3 separate regions of the Homo sapiens genome follow, and all the other regions are linked to region 1. The links come from fine-mapping of genetic effects on gene expression. A gene starts in region 1. Each other region holds a variant in brackets. All regions are shown on one strand. Distances are from middle to middle. Region 1 holds the start of SLC20A1 (solute carrier family 20 member 1). Region 2 has its middle 23 kb from the start of SLC20A1-DT. Region 3 has its middle 12 kb from the start of NT5DC4.

Evidence for each region. PIP is the estimated chance that this variant, and not a neighbour inherited with it, causes the effect.
Region 2: its variant is fine-mapped to the expression of SLC20A1 in whole blood (INTERVAL, PIP above 0.99).
Region 3: its variant is fine-mapped to the expression of SLC20A1 in whole blood (TOPMed, PIP above 0.99).

Annotation. Positions count from the first base shown.
Region 1 is chr2:112,642,206-112,648,231 of GRCh38, forward strand. SLC20A1 (solute carrier family 20 member 1) reads left to right here and starts at 3,734. Exons shown (of 11, transcript NM_005415.5): 1 at 3,734-3,924; 2 at 4,358-4,957; 3 at 5,119-5,259; 4 at 5,448-5,533. The coding sequence starts at 4,624. It overlaps SLC20A1-DT (SLC20A1 divergent transcript), which reads right to left and starts at 1,975. Exons shown (of 5, transcript NR_033871.1): 1 at 1,894-1,975; 2 at 1,754-1,810; 3 at 974-1,088. RefSeq lists an enhancer at 1-756 and silencers at 3,396-4,225, 4,687-4,981.
Region 2 is chr2:112,617,807-112,623,832 of GRCh38, forward strand. It overlaps the pseudogene RPS20P11. Among named protein-coding and RNA genes, the nearest start is that of SLC20A1-DT, 23 kb to the right of the region's middle. The variant C/CTT (reference allele first, on the strand shown) is at 2,817.
Region 3 is chr2:112,705,654-112,711,679 of GRCh38, forward strand. No RefSeq gene overlaps it. Among named protein-coding and RNA genes, the nearest start is that of NT5DC4, 12 kb to the right of the region's middle. RefSeq lists an enhancer at 2,720-2,899. The variant G/A (reference allele first, on the strand shown) is at 2,750.

The DNA of each region.
Region 1 (6,026 bases):
AAATACCTCATCTGAGATTTATTGAGAGCATCACCTGAGATAATCCATGCAGAGCACCTGAAATAGTACCTGGCACACAGTAAGCATTCAACTGCATCACAGATATTATTATTATTATTATTTTGAGATGGAGTTTTGCTCTTGTTGCCCAGGCTGGAGTGCAATGGCACGATCTTGGCTCACCGCAATCTCCGCCTCCCGGGTTCAAGTGATTCTCCTGCCTCAGCCTCCCAAGTAGCTGGGATTACAGCCATGCACCACCGTGCCCAACTAATTTTTGTATTTTTAGTAGAGACAGGGTTTCTCCATGTTGATAGGCTGGTCTCGAACTCCCGTCCTCAGGTGATCCACCCGCCTTGGCCTCCCAAAATGCTGGGATTACAAGCTTGAGCCACCATGTCCAGCTACAGGTATTATTATTACCTCATTCATCTGGGGATGGGGAGGGCATTGGTGGGTGGAGAGGAGCTGGTTCTCCTTTACTCCAAGGCTCCTACCTTCTCTTCCCTGGATGTTCTCGCCCCTGCTCCCATGCAAGTCCTCACAGACGGCCTCTGAAGCCGCCTTTGTTCCTGGTCTGGTTCCACAACGTTCCCATGCCCACTTGAGCTCCCTCTACTCCAAGTAGACTATTTCCAGGATGAGTACTTCAAGTACATCGAACAGTGACCTCAAATGCATTTCCTTGACTGTGCCTCTCTGAACTAAAAAGTGCAGAAATGTCATTGCTTCCTTCTTTTGTCTGGTCTTCCACAGGGCTAGGTTGGGATCCGGGGGGAGAGTAGCTTTCCTAGCTCTCAGCAGCTCAACTCCACCGAATTAGTGAACGATGGACATGTCCCCAAGAGGACTCTAAACCCACAGTCCCCAACATGGTGTTCTGCAGCATGCCACAGGTCATCTTGTTCTGTCCTCTCTGAGGGTGAGGTTGGAGAGGGACCCTAGGCTCACAGGCTCAGTGACAGTGACTCACCAAAGATCCTGTGGGCAGTCAGGGTCTGGGCCAGGCCAGTGAGCCCATTCATATGGCATGAGCCACAACACTGTTCCTCTTCCTCCGGCAGCAGCCCGTTTTGCGTGTCCCCTCACTATGAGCCGTGGGAGAAATTTGAAAGGGCTTGGATCAGAGGGCAGGGAGAAGAGGGTGGTCCTGACATCTGACACATACTTCATTTTAAACATGGGCTATGTATGACAGGCCTTCAGCTAGTTATTGAACAAAGAGAATAAGAGCCCTTTTACAAGGGCTTTACATATATTCATTCATTTGGTCCTCACAACAGCACTGTGAGTTAGAAGTCTCAATCTCACCCCTTTACAGATCAGGAAACTGAGGCAGATAATTTATTTGCCTATGGTCACAGGACTAGTGAGTGACAGAGCAGGTGGTTTGGTCTTACAGTCTATGTGTTTAACCACTACACCAAACCACCTCCCTAAGATGCTAGAGGGGGTTTGTGCCAATGCCTGGATTCTAAGAGATTAGATTCTCTTTAGGATCTCTGACCTGTTTCCTCAGCATTCAGAGATAAGGCCAGAAACAATGCCATTTGTGCACGAACTGACAACTGACGGTCCTCCTACCTCCTATTTCTATTTAAAAGGCACTGTAACTTCTTTCCACAGGCAGATCCCTACCTCTCCTCCCTTAGGGGAGGACGAAGGTGTCCCAGCCAAGGAAGATCCTGGTCTCCAAGGGCTGTACCCTACTGATCCGGAGGCAAAGCAGTGAGGGCCCACCCCAATTCCTCACCTCCCATTCTACTCTTCGGCAGAAGCATCTCAGTGTTGGAAAGATAAGGATTTCTTCCTAAAAAGGAAGGATTACACTATATCAGAGTCTGAAGATACAGTTTTCATTTGCAACGCAAGGGAATTCCTTTGAATCTCTACCTTATGATTTCCCTGCAAACCCACTCCGATGGGGCTGGAGAGTGCTCTCTCACTCAGATGAATCTCTCAGGGGTTGTCCAGCAGGTGTTTGCCAACTTGAAGAGCTACCTACTATCACAGACCTATAAAAGTACGCCTGTGGACAGACTGAAAACAAACAAACAAAACACACACACAAACACACAAAACAACCGCACACTGGGAGAAGTTCTAGGCAATTTCCTTGCAAATAACTGCTTTGAAAATTACTGTTTTAAATTGGCAGAACACTAAGGACTTTGAACAGATCATCCCTTTTACTCAATGTTTTCATAACCTTGAAGTGAAGGTGGAGGGAGCAGTACGTTTTAAGGTGCCAGGATTACACTACGGGGTCAGTGCTCCCGGATATGAACTTTCTTTTTCAGACCGACCTTGGGACCTACAGCTTTGTAAGTTACTCATACAACTCCATCAAATGTTACAGGTAGGTCAGAGGACATTCAGGTTGTTTAAGCCTCTATAAATGACTCAGGCAGCAACAATTTACAACGTCTTTGTTTCTGCTATGCAGTGCCCTCCTGCTAGAGATGGCAAAAATGTGGGGAGGGCTTCAGAGCATTCTAAGCCTGGTATTTCTGGCTGGAATTTTTAAATCTCACTACAATCCTGACAAGAGACCACGACCTTAATCTCCCACGGCATGACTGGTTAGTCTTGATCGTAAGCCATATAATCAACACCCAAATGTGCATAACACATCTAAATAATGTCAAAACTACACTATATACCACGCAGGGGACCAGAAATCAATCTTTACCTCAAAAGGATAAGCTTCCAGGATGCAATAACATCCCCTTCCACCCTTTTCTACACCCTAAAACAGTAATATTCACGGTAACAGCAAAGCGGAAATCAGCTTTTCCTGAACATGTACTGAATTCTAGTCACATTCACACACGTTAATTCATTTAATTCCAGCCACAAGGTAGGCAGCCTCTGTTAACATTTTACAATTGTGAGAACGCAGAGATCTGGGACTGGCTCAAGGTGACACACTGCAGCAAGGAGTCAGAATTTGAATCCGAAGCAGTGTCCTTCCCCCTCGCAACAGCTGCGGCGTTACAAACACAGGTCAGCCACGGAGAAATTAATGACCCACAGCCATCCTTGCAGCTCTGCGCCATAACTGGGGAGACAAGCTGGTTCCCGTGACTCTTCAGTCTGTTTTCACCCAAGTGCATGACTGCGGGAGCAAAGCGACCACGTGAGCATCCCCCCCCCACCCCCCCGCTTCCCCCAGGCGAGGGACAGTGCCAGGCCAAGGACAAGTCACAGGTGCAACAACGTGCCAGAACTGGATCCGGAGCCCCAGGGCGCAAGATCTCCCGCAGCGTCACCCGGCAGAGGGACGGGTGTGGCCACCGGGCGCGGCAGGTCCTGCGTGCGCTGAAAGTGCGGCTGGAGGCGCGGACGGCTTTCCGGAGCCCCGAGAGAGGAGCTAGGAATGACTTTGGTCGCAGCCTCTGTAACCCCGCATGACGGCCTCTAGGGGGACAGCGAGGTCCCCCTCGATCTCTGGCTGTAATCAGCCGGCGGGGCCAGACGGTGCCGAGACTCCAGGGCGAGGCCGCAGGGAGGGGGCTGTCCCGCCCCACGTGGACCGGCTCCCCGCTGGGGGCGTGGCCGCCGAAGCGGGCCGGGCCAATGAGCGCCACCGTCGGGCTCACCCGGCTGGGCACGCCGGGCCGAGGAGGGCTGCGTCATGCCGGGGGCGGGGCTTCGGGGCCGGCGCGAGGCGCGGCGGGGTCACGCGGGTCGCTGCGCGGGCTATAAGTAGGGGCCGGCGGGGTGCTCCGCTGGAGTGATGGCTGCCGGCGCTCTCTGCGTGGTTCTTCTTCTCGGCCGCTGAAACCCCCGCGGCTGCTTCCTGGGAAGGTCGTGAGTCCCGCTGAGCTGTCCCCGGTGCCGCCGACCCGGGCCGTGTGCCCGTGGCTCCAGCCGCTGTCGCCTCGATCTCCTCGTCTCCCGCTCCGCCCTCCCTTTTCCCTGGTGAGTAGTGGCGCCGCCTCGTAAAGGCTCTTTCTTCTCCCCGGGGCCGGGCGCGGACGCCGTGGCGCTGGAGGCGGACGCCGTGGGCGGCGCGGCTGGCTTCTCTCTTCGCCGCTGGCCGCCTCCACTCCGCCCGTCTGCCCGCCCGCGGGCCTTTTTGGCGGTCCCCGGGCGGCGCGCGCGGGAACGGCCCTTTTCCGATTTTCGCGCGGAGGGCGCGCGCGGGCTGGCAGCGCAGGGGCTGGGCTGGGCGCGCGCGGGCCGCGGAGGACCCGGAGCCACGTGCCTCTCCTTCTCGCGCGTCCTACTGGGGATGGGGGTCTGGAGTAGCCGGCAGAGGCTATTGCGGGACCCCGGGCGCGTGGGTAGAGCGGGGTGCCCCACTGGCCCCCCAGGGGCACGCAGCTATTGTTATTTCCCCCCTCCCCCGCAGGATGAACTTGCGTCCTTTCTCTTCTCCGCCATGGAATTCTGCTCCGTGCTTTTAGCCCTCCTGAGCCAAAGAAACCCCAGACAACAGATGCCCATACGCAGCGTATAGCAGTAACTCCCCAGCTCGGTTTCTGTGCCGTAGTTTACAGTATTTAATTTTATATAATATATATTATTTATTATAGCATTTTTGATACCTCATATTCTGTTTACACATCTTGAAAGGCGCTCAGTAGTTCTCTTACTAAACAACCACTACTCCAGAGAATGGCAACGCTGATTACCAGTACTACAGCTGCTACCGCCGCTTCTGGTCCTTTGGTGGACTACCTATGGATGCTCATCCTGGGCTTCATTATTGCATTTGTCTTGGCATTCTCCGTGGGAGCCAATGATGTAGCAAATTCTTTTGGTACAGCTGTGGGCTCAGGTGTAGTGACCCTGAAGCAAGCCTGCATCCTAGCTAGCATCTTTGAAACAGTGGGCTCTGTCTTACTGGGGGCCAAAGTGAGCGAAACCATCCGGAAGGGCTTGATTGACGTGGAGATGTACAACTCGACTCAAGGGCTGCTGATGGCCGGCTCAGTCAGTGCTATGTTTGGTAAGTTCTTTTTATGTTTTGTCCTCTTCGTGGTGGGTGAGCAAATTTGTATCATGGGTGGTTCCATTTTTGTGCATAACCTTTCCGATTAACCTTTCTGAATGTGCCACTTACATAATGGAATTTTGATATTTACTTAATAAAACTTTACTATGTTTCAGGTTCTGCTGTGTGGCAACTCGTGGCTTCGTTTTTGAAGCTCCCTATTTCTGGAACCCATTGTATTGTTGGTGCAACTATTGGTTTCTCCCTCGTGGCAAAGGGGCAGGAGGGTGTCAAGTGGTCTGAACTGATAAAAATTGGTATGTTTAATTCCAAACGGCTTCTTAATTTTCGTTTTCGTCATATGTTACCATGGCATTAGGTATGGGAGGATGTGTTCTAACGTCGAGGGACAGACCCAAGAATTTTGAACTCTTAAACATTTAAAGTGGTTTTTGGTTTCTGATTTTCATTATTTGATATTTTTTCTTAATGTGTTCTATTCCAGTGATGTCTTGGTTCGTGTCCCCACTGCTTTCTGGAATTATGTCTGGAATTTTATTCTTCCTGGTTCGTGCATTCATCCTCCATAAGGTAACCTTTCTCCCCCGTATGAAGACCTTTCATGGAGCACACCCAATCGATTTCAAACCCAGTGGTACTTTTGCAGATGTGATTGGTGTATAGGTATGCGGCCTTGGAAAATTTTAAAAAGCTCTTTGTTCTGTGCATTTCTTGTATGTTGTGGAGTTCTCTGAAAGCGAGTTTTTAATACTCAAGAGGGCAGTCAGGAAGGAAAAATTGAATACTATGATGTGCCAAGAAGTAGGAGAAACTGGGAGCAAAAAAATAAGGAAATTTATTTTGCGTGGTTTTGTGTAGCTGTATACACATTATTTGTTTAAACCACTGTTATATTCAGGCTAATATAATACGTAAACTTGGAGTTCAAGACAGTGTCCCCTGTGGCTTTTTTAACTAAGCTGCCAGTTAAATGGGTCTCTGCCGTGCTGATTATCATAACCAGTTTATAAGCTTCTAGATGAGGACTCTGCCTCCCATAGTGACTTGACTCCAATTTCTCAGA
Region 2 (6,026 bases), 24 kb before region 1:
AATATCATCAGTATCTATAATTGCCCAGATCCAGGAAGCATAACTGGACAGTAAAAGCAGCATCAGGTTAGGCTGGGCATGGTGGCTTATACCTGTATTCCCAGCATTTTGGGAGGCCGAGGCAGGTGGATCACGAGGTCAGGAGATCAAGACCATCCTGGCTAACATGGAGAAACCCCGTCTCTACCAAAAATACCTAAAATTTAGCCGGGTATGGTGGCAAACGCCTATAGTCCCAGCTACAGTCCCAGCTACTCGGAGGCTGAGGCAGGAGAATCTCTAGAACCAGGAAGGCGGAGGTTGCAGTGAGCCAAGATTGTGCCACTGCACTCCAGCCTGGGCGACAGAGCAAGACCCCGTGTCAAAAAAAAAAAAAAAAAAATGCTGGGCGCTGTGGCTCACACCTGTAATACCAGCACTTTGGGAGGCCAAGGTGGGTGGATCACCTGAGGTCAGGAGTTTGTGACCAGCCCGGCCGATATGGTGAAACCCCGTCTCTACTAAAAATACAAAAATTAGCCGGGCGTGGTGGTGGGCGCCTGTAGTCTCAGCTACTCAGGAGGCTGAGGCAGGAGAATTGCTTGAACCCAGGAGGCGGAGGTTGCAGTGAGCTGAGATTGCGCCACTGCACTCCAGCCTGGCGACAGAGTGAGATTCCGTCTCAAAAAAAAAAAAAAAAGAAAAAAGCAGCATAGTTTGGTTTCCCCAGGGGTGAGCGTGGGAGGGAAAGGAGGAATGAAGAAGGAGAGTATATTGTGTTGGTTTGGGTCTCTTACAGACAGTCTGGGCCTCCTCCCCGACTCCTCAAACTCACACAGATTCTATTTAAAAAGGAAGTTCCCTTTTGGGGTATTGGCACATTTAGAATCCATATTGTCTGTTTTAAGTGTGTACTCTACTGAGAATTGAGCTTTGGTTCTCTATGTACCCTTTTTAGCTTCTCCTTTAAGCATCCATCTCTCTCTCTCTCTTTTTTTTTTTTTTTTTTTTTTTTGACACCGGGTCCCATTCTGTCGCCCAGGCTGGAATGCAGTGGTTCAATCACGGCTTACCCTGCAGCCTCAACCTCCTGGGCCCAGGTGATCCTCTCACCTCAGCCTTCCCAGTAGCTGAGACCACAGGGGTGTACCACCACACCCGGATAATTTTTTGTATTTTATGTAGAGACAGAGTTTCACCATGTTGCCCAGGCTGGTCTCAAGCGATCCACCTGCCTCAGCCTCCCAAAGTATTGGGGATACAGGTGTGGGCCATGGCGCCCAGCCTCATTCCATCCTTTTATGGCATCTATTGCCTGTGGGTGATGAGGGTCCTGAGATGTCCTGGCAATGTCCAAGGTGGTTGGCCAGTGTTGGGTACTCTTGACTATAAATGCGCATCATTTGATGAGATACATTCAGGGAATCTCAGTATGTAACACAGGTCATCTGCGAGTCCCTAAATTTATGTTACATCTACCTCCTATCTGTGGTAAGGACCTACATTGCCATGCCATACCCAGAAAGGTGCCTACTGTAGGAAATGCTTAATTGCATCCCCAAGTGGAGCATTTAGGAGGTTATGTAGCCTATTTGCCAGGACTGGCCAGAATCTGGTGTCCTGAGTTTATATGTGCCCTGGAGTTTTCTTTGCCCCTTGACTGACAGGCTCATTTACCAGACTTCGGTGGCTTCCTGTGCTGGAGTCATTCATCTTTGCTTTGGGTCCCAGTCCTGCACTGTAGACAGAATGTCGTGGCCTCTGTGATGATGTATTCAGTTGTCCTTACCTGGAAGGCACAAGTCTGATTGGGTTTTGAATTCCACTCATGCTATTTCTATGGACATCCACATCCATAAAACAGAGGGCAGTGGTGTAGTATTAATAAAATCTGAGGCTGGGTGCGGTGGCTCATGCCTGTAATCCCAGCATGGGAGGCTGAGGCGGTGGATCACTTGAGGTCAGGAGTTCGAAACCAGCCTGGTCAACATGGCAAAAATCTCATCTCTAATAAAAAAAAAAAAAAATAGCCAGGCATGGTGGATCACCTGAGGTCAGGAGTTCAAGACCAGCCTGGTCAACATGGCAAAACCCCGTCTCTACTAAAAATACAAAAAAAAAAAAAAATTAGCCAGGCACGGTGGTGCAAGCCTATAATCCCAGTTACTTGGGAGGCTGAGGCAACAGAATCACTTGAACCTGGGAAATGGAGGCTGCAGTGAGCTGAGATCGTACCACTGCACTCCAGCCTGGGCAACAGAGGGAGACTCCATCTCAGAAAAAAAAAAAAAAGTCTGATACCATAATGTTCACTGCCATAGGGATTGAGACTTGATCATTTAGTCTTGCTTCCAGGCACAGGCCCGCACTGCCAGCCCATTGGCTACCGTCTCTAAATCAATGAAAAAGCAGCAAGGAGCATTTTGGAGGGGTTTTTCAGGAAAACCACCACTGTCCCCAACTCTGTCCACTGGGTAGTACCTTTTTTTTGTGTGCAAAATTTTAAACAGCTTTTGTTTTCCCCTGTGGCTGCACAGCTGCAAGGGCCAAGAACAATCCGCCAGCCTGTAACTTAGCGGGCTCCATCTGTGAACCAGCTTCAGGCATCCTCAGGGACTTGGTGTATCAATGCCTCCATGAAGCTGGAGGTGCTGGCACAAAATGTTCCTCTGGGATCAAGGGATGTCTGGCCATCTTGTAATGCCATTATGTGACTCTTTTGATGCCTGATGACCCCATTCTACAGAGTAGCCAGTCACTGGCACTTGTAGCTGAAAAGGATCATTAGAGCTAACTGGCCTGAGCAGAGTGCAGTCTGTACAGTCTGCCGGACACTG[C/CTT]TTTTTTTTTTTTTTTTTTAAGATGGAGTCTCACTCTGATGCCAGGCTGGAGTGCAGGGACTTGATCTTGGCTCACTGCAACCTCCACCTCCCGGGTTCAAGCGATTCTCCTGCCTCAGCCTCCCGAGTAGCTGGGACTACAGGCACACGCCACAATGCCCAGCTAATTTTTGTATTTTTAATAGAGATGAGGTTTCACCATGTGGCCCAGGATGATCTTGATCTCTTGACCTCGTGATCTGCCCGCCTCGGCCTCCCAAAGTGCTGCGATTACAGGCATGAGCCACTGTGCCTGGCCTGGACACTGTTCTTAAGCACGCTGGACCCTGCCAGCTCTTTTCCTCAGTGCAGTGGTCTTTTCCCCGCCTGTACTGCTTCACCCACACCACATGGCTGGGCTCAGGGAGCCCAGTGGGTCCTGGATGTGCTCTCATCCCACTAATGCTGTTCTCACTGTAGCATTTTTCCAAAGGCAACATCACTTGCCATTATGGACAGAAGTATTACATATCCTTAGAACAGGCTGTGTGTCCCTACACTGGGAAGGGTGCATGACCTTGGGTAAGACTGTTCCTGTGGGCCAAGGACATTCTTGGAAGAGGTTTCACCTGTGAATCATTAGCAGTCCATACTCTAGCAGCTCATGGAATCACTGCTTAGGTCCTGATGGGAAATTCTGAGAGGTATCCAAAGGTTCACTACACATTGTAAAGTCGTAGATGTGGAGCCCACACTGCCACCATAATTAAGGCTGCGGCAGGTCTTTCCACTACCTTCTGTGAAGCTGCCTGCTGCTAGGAGATGTGGCATGTAGTAAGCAGGAACTCCATAGCCATGGCCCATAGCTTAACATCTTTTATCATGAAAACATGCCCATGGACAAATAATTTGTATGTAAGACATCATTGCAATTGAATAAGCATTTGTAAATCTATGAATATATGGTGCTGGAGGAAGTGCTGTGGGCGGGATAAGCAAACCCATGAATATGTTTGTGTTAATCCACCTTCATTCTCCACCAACATTTGCCTCTTGCACTGACCAAATAGGTGAGGTAATAATGGTGTTATGGAAATCAGTAGCCCTGCATCTTTCAAATCTTTATGGAACTAATTTCTGCAATGTCATCAGGCACAGAATTGTTTTTTTTTTAACAACTGGTAATCAATTTATTAAAATAGTTGACTTAAGCATCTGCAATGGTAACTTCCACCTCAACTCCTGGCTCAATACTGATGGAAGTAATCTGCTTAACAATCTCAGAAGGACTGTGCAAGTCAATGAGTCGCTTGTGAATTCTCATCTGGAAATGATCCCAGGTCTTAGAATCTTCACCACAAGTAGTTTTTCTTGTAGTGATTCTCAAAGTCTTGGCAGGCATTCGAACTGGTCCTTTCACTTTGAGATTCTTTTCCTTTGCGCCTCTGATTAAGTCATCACACACCTTTTCCAGGGATTTTACATTGCGGCTTGTTAGGGTGATTCGAATTTGGTGAATGGCCACCTCCGGCTCCACGGGTGTTTTCCGGTATCCTTAAAAGCCAAGGCTGCTGCGCGGCTTCCTGACCGACTTGTTCCTCGGCGAGAGTGAACAGCGGTAAGTCAGGAGCAGGAGCGTCTGAACGAGAAATCCTCAGCACCTACGACCGCGTCTTCCTCCACAGAATTGTTTTTAGGTTATTATCTTGGTTGTAGGTGGCCCTTTCAAGGATTCTAACTGGGCATTCCCACCATGACAGACCGCATTCCTCGGATAAGGACAGCAAGGCTGGCAAAATAGCCACACGGTGTGCCTGGGATCCTACCTGACCCACTGTGAGGTGGACTCTGGCCAAGACCTGTCTATCCCCTGACCTCCCTAAGCCTCTCTCCAATTGACCATAGAGATTCCAGGGATTAGGCTCAGATAATACCAGTATCTACACATGTGGCTTCCAGTAAAATGAGCACAGACTGAGATTACAGAACCCAATTCCTGGCCCTCTCTGCTGCTAAATATCTATCAGGAAAGATCCTCCCTGAGCTTGCTTACTCATCTGTAAGTTGGAGCCAAAAATGTTCTTTGGATCGTGTGTCATTTGTGCAGATGTGATAAGATTACACACGTCAAGTGCTTTACACATTGCCTAATAAGTACCATTCACCGTTTCTTCTGCAGAGTGTAAAGAGGAAGATAAATTATCTATTACTATTTAGCAGTATTTTAATAACTTTTATGCACTTTTAATTTATTTCCAAATTTTTTCTTTTCTTTTTTTTTTCTTTTCTTTTCTTTTTTTTTTTTTTTTTTTTCAGTAGAGACAGAGACTCTCTTTGCTGCCCAGGATGGAATGCAGTGGCAGTCATAGCTCACTGAAGGCTTGAACCTCTGGGCTCAAGTGATTTTCCTGCCTCAGCTTTCTGAGTAGCTGGGACTATAAGCATGCACCACCATGCCTTACTATTTCTTTTCTCTTTTCTTTTCTTTTTTTTTTTTTTTTTTTTGAGACGGAGTCTCGCTCTGTCACCCAGGCTGGAGTGCGGTGGCTTGATCTCGGCTCACTGCAACCTCCACTTCCCAGGTCCAAGTGATTCTCCTGCCTCAACCTCCCAAGCAGCTGGGACTACAGGCGTGTGCCACCATGCTCAGCTAATTTTTGTATTTTTAGTATATTGGTCAGGCTGGTCTTGAACTCCTGACCTCGTAATCCACCCACCTTTGCCTCCCAAAGTACTGGGATTACAGGGTGAGGCACCACGCCCAGCCACCTGGCTATTTCTTAAAAAAAATTTGTAGAGATGGGGTCTTGATATGTTGCCTAGGCTCAAATTTTGTCATCTTTTAGATAACAGGATTTGGGGCTGGGTGCAGTGGTTCACACCTGTAATCCCAGCACTTGGGGAGGCCTAGGTGGGCAGATCATGAGGTCAGGAGTTCGAGACCAGCCTGGCCAATATGGTGAAACTCTATCTCTACTAAAAATGCAAAAATTAGCCGGGCATGATGGCGGGCGCCTGTAATCCCAGCTACTCAAAAGGCTGAGGTGCGAGGAGAATTGCTTGAACCCGGGAGGCAGAGGTTGCAGTGAGCTGAGATTGTGCCATTGCACTCCAGCCTGGGCGACAGAGCGAGACTCTGACTCAAAAAAAAAAAACCAAAAAAAATTTAAAAAAAAATTAAAAAACAAAACAAAACAGGATTTAGGGATAAGAATTTAGGACTAAGTCAAT
Region 3 (6,026 bases), 63 kb after region 1:
CACCAATAGCTCAAGGAGGTAAGCAAGCAAAGTGTTCCAGATCAGTGACTGACACAGTGTCCTGTGCAAATGTGCTGTGAATACAGCATTTCTCCAGGGCATTTTGTATCTTTCTAGGGTGAGGCGAAGGCCTCCGAGGATGTGAGCTTCCCCTGAAAAAATTCACAGCAGATGACCAGTGATGCAGACCAACCTCGCCACCACTCATGCAAGAACATTCTATATTCATGACCTTTGCTTGTGAAACCCAGTGACCACTGTGGGCTCTAGGCTTATTTAGACATAAGCTTGGCTTGCACTCCAAATTCAATGCCTTCTAGAAATCCAAAGTACTCCTCAGAATTTCCACCATTTCCCTAGACACCATGCCCTCATGTTATCTCTGACTTTAGCTCCTGTTCCTATGGGTGCTGTCCTGGTTCCACGCCTCCAGATGGTAAAAATGTCAGCCCTTGAGATTTCTGCAAAGGGATCTCTTCACAGCAAGCATGTGGTGTATGGGAGGTTTGGAGCAGGAGTGGGCATGTGAAGAAGACAGAGGAGAGGTCTCGGCAGCCTATGGTATGGTAGGCAGCCCCATCTGTAGAGTCCCTGATCTTGGGGGCACCAGTGGCCTCCATCTCATCCAGTCCTGGCTTCCTTTGCACGTGTTGCTGCTCTCTTTCTGTCTCTTCCTTTCCTTCCCCTCTCTCCACCCCCTTTGCTGCAAAGACTCCTGACTCACGCAAGAGTTCAGCCCTATCTGCAGATCTCACCTTACTCAAAGGGGCTTATCAGGCCAGTGGTGAGGGAGTGTGGTCTGTACAACCACAGGAAGCGGGTTGGCCTGTTGGAGCATGAGCTCTTTTTTTGCTTTGTAGATCTTGGTATTTGTTCTTCTTGGATTTTCTAGTGCTTTCTGGAAACTCTGCTTTCTCAGGCTGTAGGAATGGGAATTCAGGGCATGTCCCAATGTGGGAGCAATGAAGGAAGCATAGACAGAGAGATATGTGATGTGCGTGAGAAAGGACAATTTTTAAAATTTTTAATGAGAACAAATTTCTTGGAAAAGATAATCTAAACAAAAGGAAAAAAAATCCAAGTTATAAGAAGAGTATACAGTGAAAAGCAAGCCTTCCTCCCCACTTTCAGTCCCTTAGTTCTTGTTCCTAAAATAGCCACTGTCACCAGCTTCTTATTGATCTTTTGGGAAATGTTTTATGTGTATATAAACAGAAATGTATATGTATTCTCCCCCAATAAAAAAAATAAATGATAGGCTGGACGCTGTTGCTCACGCCTATAATCCCAGCACTTTGGGAGACTGAGGTGGGTGGATCATTTGAGATCAGGAATTCGAGACCAGCTTGGCCAACATGATGAAACCCCGTTTCTACTAAAAATACAAAAATTAGCTGTGCATGGTGGCGGGTGCCTGTAATTCCAGCTACTCGAGAGGCTGAGGCAGTAGAATCGCTTGAACCTGGGACGTGGAGGTTACAGTGAGCTGAGATTGCGTCACTGCACTGCAGCCTGGGCGACAGAGTGAGACTCTGTCTCACAAAAACAAACAAACAAACAAACAATAAATAAATGGTAGCCTGTCATACATATAATTTTACTTTTGCCTTTTAAAAATTTAACAGCATATACCTTCACTATTTTACATGGAGCTACTTATAAATATATGTTCATAAACACACACAACACACGTATATTTTATTTTTTTCCTTTTATTGGCACAAAAGTCAAACCTAGGTGATCCTTCTCATCAGCCATTGGAGAAGGCTTCTAGGGCATGGGATTTTCCAGTATGAGGTGGTATTCTGGGTGCCAGAGATTCCTGACGTCAGATTTAGTGACGATGAACACTAAGCATCGTTTCCAACTGCTCATAGCTGTGGCAGATTGTATCCTTGTTCCCAGTTCTCTTCTGTCCACTCTGTAACAGGATCTGTCTGTATCACCCCAGGCCGCGGGACCTGGAGCACCTTCCCATGGGAGGAGTGTATTCCCTTGCTTCCTTGGCTTTAGGCTTGGAAGAGGGTGGGAGTTGTACACGCCAAGTCCAAGTCAAAGCTCTAAAGACCATTGTGGACTTCTGCTTTGTGTCTTTGTCCGTGACCATGAGGTTGGAGATAGGAGCTGGGCTGTTCCTTCAGCTTGGGTCTCAGACTAAGAAGACATGGAATAAAGCCACAGTTGACCCACATCTTTGAATGATGTGTGTGAGAAATAAACCGTGCTTGCTGTAATCCCCTAAAATTCTGGAGTTGTTGGTTACAGCAGCCTAACCTGGTGAAAGGTGACTCCTGCTAGGAGACAGTGTTGGCTGTGCTCAGTCACAAAGCACCAGACGGCTCTGAGGATCTGGTTCCTTGCTCGCAGTGTCCTCTGTTTGATCTGGATCAGCTGTCCGTTGATAAAGAAGCTGAGCTGTAATCACAGCACTTTGGGAGACCAAGGCAGGTGGATCACCTGAGGCCAGGAGTTTGATACCAGCCTGACCAACATGGTGAAGCCCCACCTCTGCTAAAAATACAAAATTAGCCAGGCGTGGCAGTGCATGCCTGTAATCGCAGCTACTTGGGAGGCTGAGGCAGGAGAATTACTTGAACCTAGGAGGTGGGGGTTACAGTGAGCTGAGGTCGCACCATTCCACTCCAGCCTGGGCAATGAGAGCGAAACTCTGTCTCAAAAAAAAAAAAAAAAAAGGAACCTCAGGTTGTTTTTACAGGAACCAAGATGTCCCACACTTAGGGACTTTTCT[G/A]TACTTTCTATATGATGTGGAAGTGCCAATAGCTGGGGATTTTCAGGAAGTTATTTGGCAATGCAAAACAAGAGTTCTAAATAATTTTCACTTCTAGAAATCAGCTCAAGATAATAATTAAAAATACACAGGGAGGTTCATGGTAGAGTTATTTGAAAAATTGGAAGCCACCTAAATGCCCCATTACAGGGCAACAGTGTATACACTATTCTATGTGATGGACATTATGAAGCCATTAAAAATCAAGTTGCTGAATATTTAATGACATAAAGGAGATGTTGGTTTTTAATATTGAATGAAACAAACAGGACACAGAACTGCATATGTATAACAGTCCTAATTTGCAGAACAAATTTAGGATTGTGCCGTTTATAATTTTATATATTTTTTTCACTTACACTTGTGAATAAACATTTCCCCTCAGTCGTCAAATAAGTAAATATGTATAAAAAGAAGACCAGGAAGGAAATAAGCAAAAATAGCGGTTATTTCTAGTAGAGAGCATTTCCTTTCCTGTACTTTCTATATTTTCTAAACATTCTACGATGAATGTGTACTACTTTTATAATAAAAAAAAGTGGCTGCTACTTAAAAATGAGAATTATTCCGGTCACCTCTAGGGCTGTGCCTTTGTGCTGTGCTTACCCAGGGGCCTTAACTGGGGCTCCTCGTCTAAGAATAAGCCTGTGTGTTTAATTAGGTCACTCTCCTGCCGACCTAGAATCTCCGCACAGGGCTTAGCTTGTGCTGCCCAGAACCCCCCAGGAGCCGCCCTCCGAGGGAACTCTCAGCTTCTCACAGACAGGCACTGCTTCTGCCTGCTGAGTGTGAATTTGAGACTTCTGTGAACTGTCACTCCTACAGAGCTGCCACTCTCAGGTCTCTCCAACCTATCTTCTTTAAAAATCAATTCAGACGGCCGGGCGCAGTGGCTCCCGCCTATAATCCCAGCACTTTGGGAGGTCAAGGCGGGCGGATCACTTGAGGTACAGAGTTCGAGACCAGCCTGGCCAACATGGTGAAACCCCGTCTCTACTTAAAAATACAAAAATTATCTGGGTGTGGTGGTATGCACCTGTAATCTCAGCTACTCGGGAGGCTGAGGCAGGAGAATCGCTTGAACCCAGGAGGCAGAGGTGGCGGTGAGCCGAGATCGTGCCACTGCACTCCAGTCTGGGTGACAGAACGAGACTCTGACTCAAAAAAAAAAATCAATTCAGACATAACTTATTGAAGAGAAAATGAAGACGGGAACATTTTAACCATTTTGGATGATGATAATTCATTAATTCAATAATGAACAATAGCTGCGGTGCCAGGCAGCTACTGTTCATTGTTTCCTATGGCCTTCCCTGTATGTCCTGTGTCACATGCATTCAGGCTCTGGAGTGACTGGTGTGTGGACAGAGGGAGAGGGAGAGTTCTCAGAAGTCAAGCTGGTGTGACAGCTGGAAAAGCCGCCTGGGAAGGAGCTCATCCCAAGGGCAAAAGGAGCTTGGCACAACCAGCTTGACCCAATAGAGAGGCCTTCAGTAGAGACTTCCTGGTCTGCTTCCCCACGTGCTGTTTCACTCACATCTTTATCCAGGTCTGGCCCTTGTGAGGGTGTGCAGTGTGCGGTGTGGGGTGCTGTGCGGTGTGGTGTGCATGTCTGAGTGTGAGTGAGTGAGAGTCCAGGGTCTAGTGTCCACGGGGGAAGCTGCAATGGAGTCAGGGAGCAGAATTGGGGACAGTTGGAGAAGGGGCAGCTGGGACTGGCAGCCTCATAGGGCAGAGTCTGTGAAAAAATAGTACAGCCCCATCCACTTTCAAAAATAGTCTTCTGTAACTGTTTTAGAATAACCCATGTGAACTGTTGGTGACACCTTGGACCTTGTCATCTCCCAGGCTGCTCCACATCTGAAACCTTACATTTTATCATCTTTCATGGTTTTAAATTCAGGTAGGAGGTACATACAGTGATGTACATGAATTCCTATGCCCACTGCTGGGTCTGTAAGATTCACGCATGTTATTGTGGGTAGCATGTTTGGTTTTTCTTCATTGCTGATTCCACTGGGTCGACACGTCACCATTTATTGACCCATTCTGGAACTGTTGAACATTTGGGTTGTTTTCAGTTTGCGACGATGTTGGATAAAGATGATGTGGCATTTTGCACACGTCTTTTGGTGGACACAAACCATTGTCTTTTTTTGCTTGCTTGTTTTGGGATGGTGTCTCACTCTGTCATCCAGGCTGGAGTGCAGTGGCAGGATCTCGGCTCACTGCAAACTCCACCGCCTGGCTTCAAGCGATTCTTCTGCCTCAGCCTCCTGAATAGGTGGGACTACAGGTGCCTGCCACCATGCCTGTCTAATTTTTGTATTTTAGTAGAGACAGGTTTTCACCATATTGTCCAGGCTGGTCTCAAACTCCTGACCTCAAGTGATCCGCCTGCCTCAGCCTCCCAAAGTGCTGGGGTTATAGGTATAAGCCACCGCAACCGTCCCACACCATTGTCTTTTAACCCACTTTCCTTCCTGTGGCCTCTTTGCTGCTCATTGAGACTCTGGTCCTTCAGCCCTGCTGGGTTTCTTGCCCATCAGTCTGGCTACTTGCCCTGAAGTCATTTCTTTCTTGGCTAAGACTCCTGCAAGGGTTGTCTTTCATAGGCTGTTCCCACGTCTGCACCCTCCTCTCCCTCCTGACTCCTGCCCTATCTCACCACTGACATCTCATCGGCCAGCCAAGGCCTCCTCTGACCTATTGCCTAGTGTAGGGGGCACTGGGGCCTTCTCTCCTTCTGCCTTTCTGCAGCACAGTGCCTGCTCCAGGGGCTTGGGCCAGCCTTTCTCTTCCTCCTCTTCCGCTCCTCTGCCTGCTTCCTCTTGGTCTTCTCTGCTGGGTCCTCTCCTGTCTCCATCCTACCTGGTTGTTCCCGGGGCTCCGTTCTTGCCTCTCTTTCTGTCCCTCTCCAAGGGTCCTGGTGCTCGATCTTTAGCTGCCATAGATGCCGATGCAACATCTCTCATCCTTGCTCCCTAGGTCCAAAAATCTAGGGGGTTTTCCAAACTCATTTGATGGAAAACCTTGATAGGCCTGGACAGGAGGTTATTTGCTGTCCCTATGTAGCCACTTCGTGTGAATGAATATTCATATGTTGGCTGCAGGAATGTCAATGTGTTTGACTGTGGGCTGCTGCCCCAGATCCCAACAAGGGTGTGATCGTGCATATATAGAGGAAATTATGTTTTACCTTCTTACATCCAGAAATTATTAAATCTAGCTGGGTATG